2 linked regions of the Homo sapiens genome follow. The protein of the gene in region 1 interacts with the protein of each later gene in a biochemical or structural test. Each region holds a gene or a part of one and is shown in the gene's direction. Other genes may lie near its edges.

What was found.
Region 2: the proteins of AKAP6 (region 1) and RYR2 form a complex in vitro, tested with the Homo sapiens proteins (one study listed by BioGRID).

Annotation. Positions count from the first base shown.
Region 1 is NC_000014.9:32,324,562-32,332,540, forward strand, and holds the start of AKAP6 (A-kinase anchor protein 6), read left to right. Parts: upstream 1-4,736; 5' UTR 4,737-4,847; intron 4,848-7,979. UniProt on the Homo sapiens protein: Binds to type II regulatory subunits of protein kinase A and anchors/targets them to the nuclear membrane or sarcoplasmic reticulum. May act as an adapter for assembling multiprotein complexes.
Region 2 is NC_000001.11:237,611,542-237,619,381, forward strand, and holds part of RYR2 (ryanodine receptor 2), read left to right. Parts: intron 1-2,497; coding exon 2,498-3,302; intron 3,303-5,744; coding exon 5,745-5,945; intron 5,946-7,840. UniProt on the Homo sapiens protein: Cytosolic calcium-activated calcium channel that mediates the release of Ca(2+) from the sarcoplasmic reticulum into the cytosol and thereby plays a key role in triggering cardiac muscle contraction. Aberrant channel activation can lead to cardiac arrhythmia.

The DNA of each region.
Region 1 (7,979 bases):
AGTTAATGATTTGGAAATAATACTAATTTGCTTTTGAAATAATAAGAATTTGGAATACAACTTTGTCTTTGTTCATATTTTGCTGCTATAACAATATCTAACACTGAGTAATCTATATACAAAGAAGTTTATTTGTTCTGGAGGCTGGAAGTCCAAGATCAAGGGGTTGCATCTGGTGATGACCTTCTTGCTGAATCATAACATTGTGGAAGAGATCACATGGTGAGAGGGTGAGAATGCAGAGATGGAAAAAGGGGGCTGAACTCCTGCAGTCACTAAATTACTCCTATGATAGTGGTATTAGTCTATTCACGATGGCTCCACCTCTTAAGTATCATCACAAGGGCAATTAAGTTTCAACATGAGCCTATAGTTCCAGCTACTTGGGAAGCTGAGGCAGGAGGATTCATTGAGCTCAGGAGTTTGAATCCAGTCTGGGCAGCATATTGAGATGCCTCCTCTTAAACAAACAAATAAACAAACAAACAAACAAAACCAAACCCAGAAAACCAAACCCATGAATTTTGGAGGGAACACTCAAACTATAGCCAATGCCTACTTACAAATAGGAAAAAAATGACCAGGAGGAAACATTTCTATAAATGTTGCTGTCTGCAAATGATACTACCAGATTTCTGTCTTGTCAGTTCAGGATGGCAGAGAAAGATTGGAGGCAGACTGAGTTGTGCTGAAGGTGAGAGAAGTTTTATTTTTTCCTTCTTCTGCAGCCGCAGGCTGAATTGGAGGTTTAGTGGTGTTCTAGCTCATTGCTGTTTACAGTCATATTTACTATGTTGCAGATGGACACCCAATGGAACATTAGTCTATGAAAAAAGGATTCTGTGATTAAATATAAATTAGGAAAATACTGCATACTATATTTCTACAGGAGAGTCTCAATGCATATTAGCAGATTGAAAACTCTTAGAAAATCTGCAACCTATTTAATAAATGCTGATGGGAAAACTGGCTAGCTACATGCAGAAAACAGAAACCGGACCCCTTTCTTATACCTTATACAAAAATGAATTCAAGATGAATTAAAGACTTAAAACCATGAAAACCCTAGAAGAAAACCTAGGCAATACCATTCAGGACACAGGCATGGGCAAAGACTTACTGATTAAAGCACCAAAAGCAATTGCAACGAAAGCCAAAATTGATAAATGGGATCTAATCAAACTAAAGAGCTTCTGCACAGCAAAAGAAACTATCATCAGAGTGAACAGGCAACCTACAGAATGGGAGAAAATGTTTGCAGTCTACCCATCTGACAAAGGTCTAATATCCAGAATCTATAAGGGACTTAAACAAATTTACAAGAATAAAACAACCTCATCAAAAAGTGGGCAAAGGATATGAACAGACACTTCTCAAAAGAAGACATTTATGTGGCCAAAAAACATATGAAAGAAAAGCTCATCATCACTGGTCATTAGAGAAGTGCAAATCAAAACCACAATGAGATACCACCTCACGCCAGTTAGAATGGCAATTATTAAAAAGTCAGGAAACAACACATGCTGGAGAGCCTGTGGAGAAATAGGAACGCTTTTACATTGTTTTGGGGAGTGTAGATTAGTTCAACCATTGTGGAAGACAGTGTGGCGATTCCTCAAGGATCTAGAACCAGAAATAGTATTTGACCTAGCAATCCCATTACTGGGTATATACCCAAAGGATTATAAATCATTCTACTATAAAGACACATGCACATGTATGTTTATTGCAGCACTATTTACAATAGCAAAGACTTGGAACCAACCCAAATGCCCATCGATGATAGTCTGGATAAAGAAAATGTTGCACATGTACACCATGGAATACTATGCAGCCATAAAAAAGAATGAAGCTGGAAGCCATCATTCTCATCAGACTAACACAGGAACAGGAAATCAAACACTGCATGTTATCACTCATAAATGGGATTTGAACAATGAGACCACATGGACACAGGGAGGGGAACACCATACACCAGGGCCCTTCGGGGGGTTGTGGGCAAGGTGAGGGAGAGCATTAGGACAAATAGCGAATTCATGCAGGGCTTACAGCCTAGATGATGGGTTGATAGGTGCAGCAAACCACCATGGCACATGTATACCTATGTAACAAACCTGCATGTTCTGCACATGTATCCCAGGACTTAAAGTAATATAAAATAAAAAAAGAAAGTCTGCAATAAAGGAACATGTTTTTAACACTGTCACTTTATCATAAATAATGATATATAATATAATCTTGTTAGAAAATTTATATTTTATTAAATTATAATTTTATCTATAAATGGATAATTTGTTCAGAATAAACTACCCCAAAATCTTGGTGGTGTTTGTTTCTCACTCATTGCAGCCCAGTGTAGGTCAATAGGTAGTTGGGAGAGGATGGTTGAGCTCCATGCAGTCATTCAGGGACCCAGGCTCCATCCACAATGTGTGGCCATTATCTTTCTGGGCTTCAGAGTTCCACTGGATTCTTTGCATCCAGCTAGCAGGACAGGAAAACATGAAGAAGAGACACTTGGTCTTAGCCACCTTTGGAGTTGATGGTTTCCACTTCTACTTCCGTTTCATTGGTGAGTGCCATTTTGTGGGCAAGCAATTTAGCTAGTCCAGGTTGCTAAAAGTTTGACCTGGCCTCAGGTTTGATGAGCCATCCATTTCTTCCCATCAAATGATTGACTTGCTTCTGGCAAAAAAGATTAACAAGATTCTTACCATCTTGAGAAGCCATATTCAAATCTGGAACACCTGCTCCCACCCTGTCCTCTCCTCTTTATAGCATGTGGATTTCAGCTCTGGAAAGACTAATCTTGTTCTGTAATAGGTCCATGTCTCTTTATCTTCTCCAGAGACTGAAGGGTTCTTCAGAGGTATCTTAAAGAGTCAGCTTACAGCAAATGAGGTTGGAGGCAGTGGTTGAGAATGGCTCATCAGTCTGGGCTCTGGGCTTCTTATCTTGCCTCAACCAAGGCAGTCCAGCTTTGATCTGTATCATTAAAAGAAAGGTTATATTACTAATGAAAAACCTGAAAACTATGGTTATTAGCTAAATCAATCATCTCTGCAGATGAAAAACTTGAGGCCCCAAGAAGTTAATCAATTGGCCTGATATCACACAGATGCTCTAGGAGGACCTGACATTTACAGTTGGGTTTCCTGACTCTCAGATCTGTACTCTTTGTACTGGGGTAGCTGCCTGCTACTTCTCCCCTTGTGTGTGGCATGTGGTCTGAGGTCTAAGATAAAGGGAGGGAGTCAGGCTCTGCTGATGCCACAAAGGACCTAAGCAGGCAGATTCACCTCCTGCTTTTGGTCTCTTAATTCCTCTCTAGATGAAGCAAGAACAAGTCTGTCTTCCCATCTAGGGCAGGGTTGCTCTGTGCGAGGCTGATGGTGCACGCTGCTGGGATATTGGCACTTCTCAGGCATTTTATTAGCTCCTGTTTACAGAGACACTGCCTGAATTCCTTCTGCCACTCATCCCACACCGCCTATGCTGGTGGTTAACAGTGCCATTTTAAAATCTCAAGCAGGAGGAGACAACATAATTGTCTCATGTTTTAAGCTTTTGGAATGTTGTTCTTTTTCAGAGTTGTGAAGACGGAGTGGATACAGGTCAACTTGATTCTGCTTTTCTCTATCAATGGCCTGCAAATATTAAATATGCAAAACATAGGCTGCTCTGTCCATATCTCCTTCTCCCCAGTTCTCACCACATGACGTTGATTTCTGCTCAGGACTGGAAAGAAGTGATTGCTTTAGATTTGCTTTTCTTTTACCAACTGGAGAAATGCCTTACCGTGTCTTGTTTAAATGTGGCTTTTCACACAGTTCCAGCTTTTGGGGTTGGGGAGGGGCACAAATAATCTGTGTGGTAGGCAGTTTTATTGTTCAGAAAAGAAGAAAACAGACCCCAATGTTTGGAATGCCAACGATTTAGGAAGTTTCTAGCAGGTCTGCTACTTGTTCCAACCACTAGGTTTGATCCCAGAAAAGACTCACATGCGTTTTGGCCATGAGAAGGAGGGGTTCCCTGCAGGCCAAAGGAAGGGTCAGTAGAAGTTGAGGGTGGTGTGTTGTGCCCCTCTAGATTCCAAACTTCCCTTTGCTGCCTATCTGATGACCAGGTGAAAGCTGGGTTTATTCTGCATGGGAAGGTTCTGTGGGTTGGTGTTCATCAGGGAAAATAACCAGGACAGACTTCATTGGCCAAGGGTTTGCCCATGTTTTGAGAATTAAAACTTGTTTACTTGAGAGTTAGAGTCATTTGGTCAGCTGTTTATATTCCATTTTTAATTATTTTTGTGCTCGCTGTTTTGTTCTTTTGGTCTTTGACAGATGAGCAAAAATTCTTTTTAATAACTTTTAAAAAGCTATCCCAGTGCTGACCAGGGAGGAAAAAGTGATCAAATTGTCTAATAAGGAAACATTGTACATTTCAGTTTTTATTTGCTTAGTACTAATTCTATTTTCTCCTCCCACCTTTTTTTTCTAAATGTATAACAACAAAGGGGGAGATAATTTTTGTTTTTTCCAAAATGCTTTCAGGGAAATCCCTTTTAAACCTATGGATTTTAGTCCAATGAGGAATCCTCTTCCTTTGGTCTAAATTTTGCATATCGTCTGTTTCTTACAGGGCTTCCGTATTGTCTCAGGCTCCACTGGAAATGCAGCAAGGATTCCTAGCACATCCCAGTTGCCATAGCAACAGCAGTCTTTCCCATAATGAGCTGCATCATCTGAACTGATGTCACAGCATCATGCAGCAGGTCAAACAAGGCATCTCCTAGTATTGCATCCTACAGATGTGCTGTAAACATCAAAAGAAGACGGTGGGATCAGGAGATGGTGAGTGTTAAATGTCTGGGCCTTAATTGCACGGCTGTTTTGTTGGTTAGTCGGTGTCTGCTAAGGCGGAGATTGGGGGATGTTGTCTCTGCTTAAAATGGACTGGGGAAAGAAGGGCTGTTTTACCTAAATCGTTTTTCAGGCTGCCGGGTTAAGACAAAGGCCTGTAAGAGTCATATAGGAATTAAAATATGTAGAATTATTCTTGCTCCAGCTCTGTCTGTTATTTTTAAGTGTTCTTACAGAATTTTTCATAAACATAAGATGATTTTTCAATTGCAAAACCCCAGATAAGCTTTAAAATGAGTAGTTAACAGTATTTAAGCATTGTAAAAATATAGATTTCTTTTTGGGAGGCAGAGCTAATTGGCCCCCTCTTTGCTCTTGTGAATTATGAAATATTCAGTGATTTGCAGTATGAAATTCATTATTTACCTCGGTTGGGTTTCAGTTTCTTCATGGCAAGGAACAAATGCTGAATAAGCATTTGACATAACCCTGATGTGAAAGGGGATCTCTTGCATATTCAAGACAGAATTTATTAAAAGCATAAAAACCTAAACCAAATGAAATTATTTGAGCCTTTTGATCTATATGGTAGTTCTTCAACCCATGTCCTTCAGAGTTAGTTGAAAGACTGCCACATATTTTTCCATCTCTAGCTAGTCTCTGAAATAGCTGGAGTTGTTTGCAGGCTGACTTGTAACTGAGAAAGGAACAAGTCTCCTCTCTGCGGCAGTTGCAGTGAAGGGTAACCCTGGGAGAGCCTCTGAAGTGGCAGTGGTGTTGCCATCCCTTGCTTAACTTTAACAAAAATCTGGGTATGATGAATAAATATCAGGGTCCTCAGTGGTTGTAGGGATTACAGACCTCTGGACTCAGTCATAACCTCAACTCAATTCCAAAACTCTAAACACGTATCATTTTCATTTCAACTCCTAGCTCTGTTTTTAGGCATCTTTATTATTATTATTATTTTCTAAAAAATTAGTCTGACAGTGTCAGATAAGGAGCAGAATGTTGCCTTTTGTTTTGGGAAATGAAATGGATTTCCCTGGTACAGCTGATTGCTACTAGGGGAGAGAAAGGAGGAGGCACATGTCAGTTCAATTGATCAATATGTCCACTTAGAATCAGGGAGTGGTCTTGTGGCTTAATGCTGCCAAATTGATAGTTTTTACTCAAAAAGTCTTACACGAAAGAATGGCAACCATTGAATTCCTCTTCTTTTAGTCTGTTTATTGGGGCTAAAGAGATATATCATGGAAAGCAGGAAAAGCAATACCTTTAGCTAGCTTGGAGTGATTTTTTTTTTTTTTTTTTTTTTTTTTTTTTGCACAGAGTTAAGTATGCTAGTCCCATTAGGCACCAGCCAGAGGAAAGGCCTCAGGTTTTAATTTGTTTGTTTATACCACATCACGCACATGCTTGCTACTCTCAGTCCTTTAAGCTTATGTTTCTGACATGCAGCTGTATAGGATGGGAGAGGTCAGCTCAGCCTGGCTTTATCGCAAGCACTTAGAAGCATGAATTGTTCATTGCCTGCTTTTTTATGTCATATAATGTGAGCAGAAAGCTCTGCTGGGACTGCTGGGTGTGAACACATCTAAGTCGAAAGCTCTAAGGTGACAGGGAAGAGTGCTAGATGGTGATGGGGGAAGGGAAAGTATGTCTTGTAGCTAGATTATAAATCTGGATAAAATCACTTAGTGCCTTTTAGAATTTTCTTAAAGTATTATTTCTGAAGAAGAGCAATGAAGAAAGACTTGTTTGGTAACATGAATTTCTAGGAGTAAAAAAAAGCAAAAGGCAGCATTGTAATGAGTTTTCTGTTTGCTTAATTCTTGTCTCTTTTGTTTAAAGTGCTCTTCAGCTGCTTCATCATGGTTGATTTGTTCAATTACTGGAAGTCACAAAAGCTAGATTCCTTAAGGGCAGTGTTAGAAAAAGTGGAGTCATGCTTTGAGGGTGGGGAAGGGCGCTGGTGGGTGTGGACTGACGCAGTTATCTAGTGGAACATCCTCCCGGTTCAGACAACCCTGTAATTTTTCCCCCCGCAAATGTTCAAAATGCAATTACAGTTCTCCAACTTTATGCTTTTGTGCTCTTTTTGCTCCAGGAGAACAAAGCCCTGGTAATGAGAGCTATCATCCTAATGTTTTGTTTCTTCGTTTCTTTGTAGAGGGCCACAGCCTGCGCTGCTCTCTGATTAGCTGCATGTCTTAATTACTGGCTAAGGCTATTTCAGTTGTCTTAGTTTTAATATATCCCCAAGGGGTAGATGGTGTGTGTGTGTGTATAGGGGAAGGGAGAGATTTCTCTATGGCTGTATTTATTGGTGCCTCACTGAAACTTTCTACAGTTTAAGGAATTTTGTTTCACAGTAATGATAGATCATCAAGACCATGTTTATTGGACAGAGTTTAGGCCATGGAAGCCTCACAAGAAGTTAATGTCCTCTATACTTTTGGTCATGGCTTTCACAAATACATTACAAAGTTACAAAGAAGTTAATTCTTTGCCGATAACTAGGCCGCATAGGGATGATAAAAATAATAATCATAATAACAATCATAGCTATCATTTATTCAGTTCTTACTGTGTATCAGTACTGAATTAAGTTTTGTGTATATCTTATTTAGCCCTTATTATTATTATGAAGTAGAGAGTAATAATCTCACTTTATAGGATTAGGTGTTATTATTCACATTTTGCAAAAACCAGTCCTTAGCCAGGCGAATAAACTTGGCTAAGGTTATGTAGTTAATAAGTGATTGGGCCAGGATTCCAAACCATTGCGATCTGGCTATGCAGCACACATGCTTACCCACGGCCATCTCAGTTTTATGACATCTTTACTGTATATACCATACAGATCAGTCATCTATACTCTATCACACGTACCCCACCCCTCCTCATTCTAATTGGAAAATCAGATTTCATATGTAGAATGAAATGTCATTTGCAACACTAAGGTTGATTTCACTGTAAGGATGAGCATGAATCTTGATCAGATGTGAATATTTACTTTGTACCCAGAGATTTAAGTAATGAAGAGTTGATGCTTAGACTTTTGCCACTGCCCTTGCTTGATATAACTTTCTAGCAGGATCTCTGTATGGAAAATGTTAC
Region 2 (7,840 bases), on another chromosome or scaffold:
AGCTTTGTTTATGATTTTCTGTTTTTCCATATGATAGCCAATTAAATTGCAGAGATTTCATTTAAGCAGCCTTCTTATCAATAAGGAGCTAAGTTTCTAAGTTTTGGGCCAAGATTTCCCTCCCAAAATGCCACTGAAATGTTGAATCACAAACTGAGTAAAAACAAGTCATGAAAGTAATGCACAAACATATTTGTATGTTTTAAGTCTTTAATCTGAAAATAATTATTGAAGCCAGGTCCATTTTTATATCTTTAGATGTTCTTGGCATTTTTTATTTTAATATCTTTAAAATTTAACCTATGCTTTGGAAAACAGTTTGTCAGTTCCTCAAAAAATAAAATTATAGCGTTAACATGTGATCTAGCAATTCTACTCCTCGTATATACCCAAGAGAAATTAAAATATGTCCACACAAAAACTTGTACATGAATATTCATAGAAGCATTATGAACAATAGTAAAAGAAAGGGAACCCCAAATGTTCACCAGCTTATGAGTCAATAAACAAAATGTGATATATCCATATAATATTATTTGGCAATAAAAATGATTGAAGTACTGATATATGCTACAAAATGCAAGAACTTTGAAGACATTATATTAAGTGAAAGAAACCAGTCACGGAAGTATATTAAGTGAAAGAATCCTACTAGTGTGGGATTTTATTTAATTGAAAAGTCCATAATAGACAAATCTTTAGAAACGAAAAGTAGATTAGTAGTTACCTAGGGCTAGGAGCGGAACAGGACTGCTAATGGGTACTAAATTCCTTTTGGGATGATAAAAGTGTTCTAAACTCAACTTATAGTTATAGTTACACAACTCCATTAATATACATAAACTATTAAATTATGTATTTTAAGTAGGTAAATTGTATAGCATGTAAATTACAGTTCAACAAAGATATTTTAAAACAAAAGAAAATCAAAGAAAAATTAATCTGGCTAGTTAATTCTTTTTATGTATTACATATGTATTTACATTTTTTACATGAGGTAATTAGATATCTTTCATAATGTACTCTTGAGATGGTTCAGTTTGATTTTAATTTTGTATTCTTTTTTTTTGTGAGAAGAGTTTTATCATAATTTTTCATCTGATGATGTTTTTTAAGAAAATACCGAACAACCAAAACAAACACAACATTTGGGAAGGAATTCTTGTTTATGAAGGAAAACGTTGTGTCTCTACTGAGCATGGAATTTTAACATTATAATTTAACATTTTGGCATGCTATCATCGAAAACCAACATAACACCTTGTCTCAGTAGTTTATATTAATTGCCTGTGATAGATGTGTATGTATGTGAATGGATAATGTAAACTCTCACTAAAGATCATAAAGGATTTGAGGCAGTTTTCCAAATGATATGGAACATGAATGTATAAAAATGTGTCACTGGCATCAGGCCATAGAAAATATATGGATAGGAAAATAAAACTGAGGCTAAGAGTGACACACAGTCATTTATACCACACCGATTGGTAGAGTTGGGGCCCACATTAATTTCATTCTTCCTAGCAGCCAAAGAAAAATATGATGAGTTTCAAAATCCAAATTCCAAAAAAGGAAGTCTTAACTAGCATGGTTGAGAAGAATCTGATGCCCCAATAACATGACAAATCATTAATATTTTAAAGTGTGCAATGGTGGTAGATTTATGTCAGTGTGTACTTTGTTTCTCCTTAACACATGTCACAGTTTATAATTTAATTTACTCCATTTTGGTCAGCGGGGGTGGTTTACTCCCTCAATTGAATATAAGCTCCCTGGGGGCAGGAATCATGTCTATATTATTCACCATTGTATCATCAGTGCGCAGTGCTAATACATAATAGGCACTCAGTGATATTTGATGAACAATTGAATGACAATGACATATGAAAGAAATTTCTCCACTAGAGACTTTTTTGTTGTTGTTTCTTTATTTATCTATTGTTTTGAGGTGGAGTCTCACCATTGCCCAGTCTGGAGTACAGTGGCGCGATCTCGGCTCATTGCCACAGATCCTTGATACAATGGAGGAGGAAGGAGGTGCTAGATGAATGTCAAATTCTATGTAGAAGAAAATTTGTAGAACATCTAGAAATGATTAAAAGTACTATGCAGCCATTAAACATGTCATAGAAAATTAAAAGAAGACACAGGTTGGGTGTCCCAAATCCAAAAATCTGAAATTCGAAATGCTCCAAAATCGGAAACATTTTGAGCACCAACATAATGCTCAAAGGAAATGGGGTATTTCACATTTCAGACTTTCAGATTCAGGATGCTCAACCGGTAAGTATAATGCAAACATTTCAAAGTCTGAATAAAGTCCCAAATCCAAACAATTCTGGTCCCAAGCATTTCAGATTAGGGATGTTCAACCTGCAGTGTCTATTCCCATAACTTTTTTCCTTCAAATTTACAGTGCATACTGATTTCTCCTCTGATTCAGATTTTAAAAAATCATTCATTTCTAATCTTACTACCACTCTCCTCCCTTCTACAGATCTGTTGACATCTTAGAGTTGACAGAGCAGGAGGAATTGCTGAAATTTCACTATCACACTCTCCGGCTCTACTCAGCCGTCTGTGCTCTTGGGAACCACCGGGTGGCCCATGCCCTGTGCAGCCATGTGGATGAACCTCAGCTCCTCTATGCCATTGAGAACAAGTACATGCCTGGTTTGCTGCGTGCTGGCTACTATGACCTGCTGATTGACATCCACCTGAGCTCCTATGCCACTGCCAGGCTCATGATGAACAACGAGTACATTGTCCCCATGACGGAGGAGACGAAGAGCATCACCCTGTTCCCTGATGAGAACAAAAAACACGGCCTTCCAGGGATCGGCCTCAGCACCTCCCTCAGGCCACGGATGCAGTTTTCCTCCCCCAGTTTTGTAAGCATTAGTAATGAATGTTACCAGTACAGTCCAGAGTTCCCACTGGACATCCTCAAGTCCAAAACCATACAGATGCTGACAGAAGCTGTTAAAGAGGGCAGTCTTCATGCCCGGGACCCAGTTGGAGGGACTACTGAATTCCTCTTTGTACCTCTCATCAAGCTTTTCTATACCCTGCTGATCATGGGCATCTTTCACAACGAGGACTTGAAGCACATCTTGCAGTTGATTGAGCCCAGTGTGTTTAAAGAAGCTGCCACTCCGGAGGAGGAGAGTGACACGCTGGAGAAAGAGCTCAGTGTGGACGATGCAAAGCTGCAAGGAGCTGGTGAGGAAGAAGCCAAGGGGGGCAAGCGGCCCAAGGAAGGCCTGCTCCAAATGAAACTGCCAGAGCCAGTTAAATTGCAGGTAATCAGAACAAGAGACTTGAGTGAATTTCAGAATTGCTAAGCATTAAGGTATTAGAACATGCCTTTGTTTCTTTCTCTGTGTGTGTGTTTATTTCTTTGCATTCCTGTGTAATGGTAGTTCTTCATAAAATTAACTAACTTCCTATTCTTTTCCCTCTTATTCATTAGCCATCTCCTCTTGTTTCCCAGATGCTTTTTACCTTCATTACATTGGAATACCTGAAATACAAGCCATCAAATACCCCTTTCCACCCATATTTCCACTCTTACCAACCTTAGAATACTTGTTTACCAGTAGATGCACCCATTGTCACATAGCAAGGTTTTACTTTCCCCTAGTATGCTTTTGTTTTGTTCTTTTGAGACAGGGTCTCACTCAGTCACCCAGGCTGGAGTGCAGTGGTGGTGCAATCATAGCTCACTGCAGCCTAGAACTCCTGGGCTCAAGCCATCCTCCCACCTCAGCTTCTACAGCAGCTGGGACTGTAGGTATGCCACCATGCCCAGTTAATTTTTTTTTATTTTTAGTCGAAATGAGGTCTCGCTCTATTGCCCATGCTGGTGTCAAACTCCTGGACTCAAGTGTTCCTCACTCCTCATGCTCCCAAAATGCTAGGATTACAAGTGTAAGCCACTGCACCCAGCCACCTTAGTATGTTTTTAAGGAATCAGACACACTGGCTGTCTTTATGCTCCTCAAGATGTCTAAAGGGTCCTTTATTAATGTCTCCTCTGTTTATTAAAGTCAATTGGATGTTTGCATCGCTGACCTGCTTTTTTGCTCCTCGTTCCTTTAGTCAGCGTTGACTGAAGCCTTACTCTGGGTATGCACTTAGGGGAAACACAAGTGAACCCTGCCTTTCAGAATCTCACAGCCTCTAAGGAAATATACACTCATTTATGCATTAAAAAATCTTATTGCTAATTGCATTAAATACTCTGAAGGCAAAGAATGGATTACTAAAAGAAAGAACATTTAGACTGGATTACTGTTAGAAAGATGAGGGAGAAGACCCCTCAGAGATTTTGACTTTTAAGCTGAGTTCAGATTTAAGAGTTGTGCTCAGCAGTTACAAGAAAAAGGAACAAGGCAGGGTGTTCTAGGAGCTTTCCATGCAAAACAAATAGCCCAGCAAAGGTCCTGAGGCAGGAAAAGGCCAGTGTGGCTGCTGGTAGGAAAATCGATAAGGGAGGAAAGAGAGTGTGATCTAGTGTCTGGTTAGTCAGGAGGCTTTCTTGCTGGTCCAAACTCTAGGAGACCATGCTCAGAGGAGGGTGGGGCAAAGGAGATGGAGAAAAGGGGTTGGACACTGTGACTACTTCAGAGACAGCACTGATAGAAATGGTTATATTGTAGATGGTGACACAGAGGGTTTTAAGGTCCTCTTTGACACTGTCATGTATTTATATCACAATTGGTATTGAGTGTATAGATTTTTTTAAAAATTTGGCAGAGCATTCTCTCTTAGAAATGTTTCTACCAACATACTCACTCAGTTATAAATCCTTTTGGTTTTCAGTAGGAGAAAGACCCAGCTAATCACTGAATGAATGAGCATTCACCACTTAATTGTCTTAAGTTTAGATTTCTAGAATTGGTACAGCAGTTCAATGATCTCATCCATAACCCAGATCTTAATATTTTTCTGCTCTGTGATCCTCAGCCTGTGGTTTTCTTCCTAAAATGCTCACCTTATTCTTTCTGCAGTAATCATGTCATCACCCAGTTACACTCATTTTGAAAGAAGGGAACTCTAGTCTCTTATCACTGATGGAATAACTTTCCCAGAAGACCCTTAGCAAACTTTCCCTTATATATTTCATTGGCCATTGCACCTGTGGCTGAAAGGGAGGCTGGGAGGGTAAGTGTATTAGTTCGTTCTCACACTGCTAATAAAGACATACCTGAGACTGAGTAATTTATAAAGGGAAAAGGTTTAATGGACTCACAGTTCCACATGGCTGGGGAGGCCTCACAATCCTGGCGAAAGGCAAATGAGGAGCAAAGTCACATCTTACATGGTGGCAGGCAAGAGGGCATGTGCAGGGGAACTTCCATTTATAAAACCATCAGATCTTGTGAGACTTATTCACTACCACGAGAACAGCATGGGGGAAGACACCCTCATGATTCAGTTATCTCCACCCAGCCCCGCCCTTGACATGTGGGGGTTATTACAATTCAAGGTGAGATTTCATGGGGAAAGAACCAGACCATATCAGTTAACATCCACTAAAGGGACATTTGTTTGCCATTTTTGCTTATACAAATTATGTTTCATCTCCTGGGACCGAGCACATTGCTGCCTATACAAAATCAGGATTCTGTTTCTAAGAGAGAAGAGTAGGCAACTAAGGATGTTTACCACAGATTATGATTTCATACACATTATTAAAGGATTTAGAAATTAAATTTGGTGTCTTTTTAATGGTCTCTTAGATGTGCCTACTGCTTCAGTACCTCTGTGACTGCCAGGTCCGGCACCGGATAGAAGCCATTGTAGCCTTTTCAGATGATTTTGTGGCTAAGCTCCAAGACAATCAACGTTTCCGATACAACGAAGTCATGCAAGCCTTAAACATGTCAGCTGCACTCACAGCCAGGAAGACAAAGGAATTTAGATCACCACCTCAAGAACAGGTACAGAAATGAAATGAAAATTCTTCGTATTTATGTTGGCTTTTAGTCATTCAGGATCTCTGCCTTGCAAAATTATATAACTCACACGTCTTGTTTTCCTTGTTCTGTTTAAAGTCTTCAAGTTGATTTAGTTAGTATTCTTAGTTTCACCAAAAGAATTTCTTTGGTTAGTTTACACAAAAGAGGGACTTATTAGAAGATATCAGGTATATCACCGACTCTTTGAGAAGGCCAAGATATGCCAGAGTCTGAAGTTCTTCAAATAGGAGCAAATTTCAACCACAAATGGGTCTTCATCATCTTCCACTCATAGGAATTTTTGATTCCTAGGACTCGATGCTAGAGGCTTTCCATTTGTGCCTACCATAGAAGAAACACATGTCTCTTCCACCTTGCTTGCCGGAAGACTGATTACCTGCTTGTGGTTTCTTCCTTTCATTGCTTACCCCCAAAGTCAGGTCTCCTGAGGGTACAACAGAACAAAGGGAACCTGCCTATATCAGAGAATGGGCTAGTTGGGGGATGTAAATTTTCTGGAATCTACCTCAGAGTGGGCCTCAGAGTGTGGGAAGTTACTGGCGTAGGGATGGTGTTAAACAATGTAATTCACAGATGTCTTTTTTGATTTCTTACCCTTACCATTTTCTTCTCTATCCAGGGTAGCTCAGAATGAAAGTGTTTATAGGGACTAATTACAGAATTTTTTTTTTTCTCACCAGAATGTAATTTCTTTGAGGAAAGGGATGTGGAATTTTCTTAATTGTTATAAACAGCATTTATTGAGCAGAGAACAGGTCCAGCCTCTTCCAGATTAACTCTGTTAAACTACTGTTGGGAAACTTCTGCTTCTGGAAAGATGGAGTACATGTGCTTTTCCCGATTCTTCCTTTTAAGTACAACTAAAACCCTGGACATTACAAAGAAGACAACATAAGAAGGCTCTGAAAGATAGAGAGAAGAAGAGAGGTTGGCTACAGAACTCAGGACCCAAGGAACAACATGGTGGTGAGTTCCCTGGATTTTCTTTTTGCCTCATCTATCCCAGATTTGAAGCTAAAGAAGACGACAACCAGGAAACACCAATGGGCATAGACAAGAAAAGCTGCAACAAAAGCCTCCTCTTTCTAGATAAAGGATCAGGGAAGGGGCAGCTTAGCAAGACAGAAATGTGTTAGATAATAACTGCACTACTGAAGCCAAAAACCACAGAAAAAACTGTTCCCCACCCACACTGGGCACAGGCTGAGTGGGGAACCTTGACTTCCACTCTCACCAGGCTGTAACAAGGTGTCCCAGTAGAGGACAGAGCTGGGACTTTATCCCCGCTGAGTAGTAACAAGGCCCATTTCTTCCAAAGTATCAGTAGAGGTTATGGAAGGAGAAGTAGCAAGACACTCTTACCTTTCTAGCAAGGTTCACATCAGTACAGGTCTAATGAGGAACCAGAACTTTTTACCACTGCCCAACAGTAACAGGGTCCCTTCCCTCCTCCAGATGTCCAAGAAGGCTGAGTGGGAAAATGGACTTCGCCTCCCACCTGGCAGCAATAAGATACCCTAAGCCCTTCTCCTGCTGGATGGGGTCAGAGGAAACCAGGTGAAACAGAGTTAAAAATAAGACCCAGAGCTCCTAGCATAATCCTCAAAATGTTGAGATTTCAATTAAAAATCATGTGTGTGAAGAACCAAGGAAAACTTGAATGAAAAAACCAATCAATAAGCACCAACACTGAGATAACAAAGATGTTAAAATTATCTGATGAAGTTTTGAAAGCAATCGCCCTGTAATTCCTTCAAAATGGAAAAGAAATAGAAAGCCTCAACGGCAGAGAAACAAAATATATGGCAAAGAACCAAATGGAAATTTTAAATCTGAAAAATATAATCACTGAAATT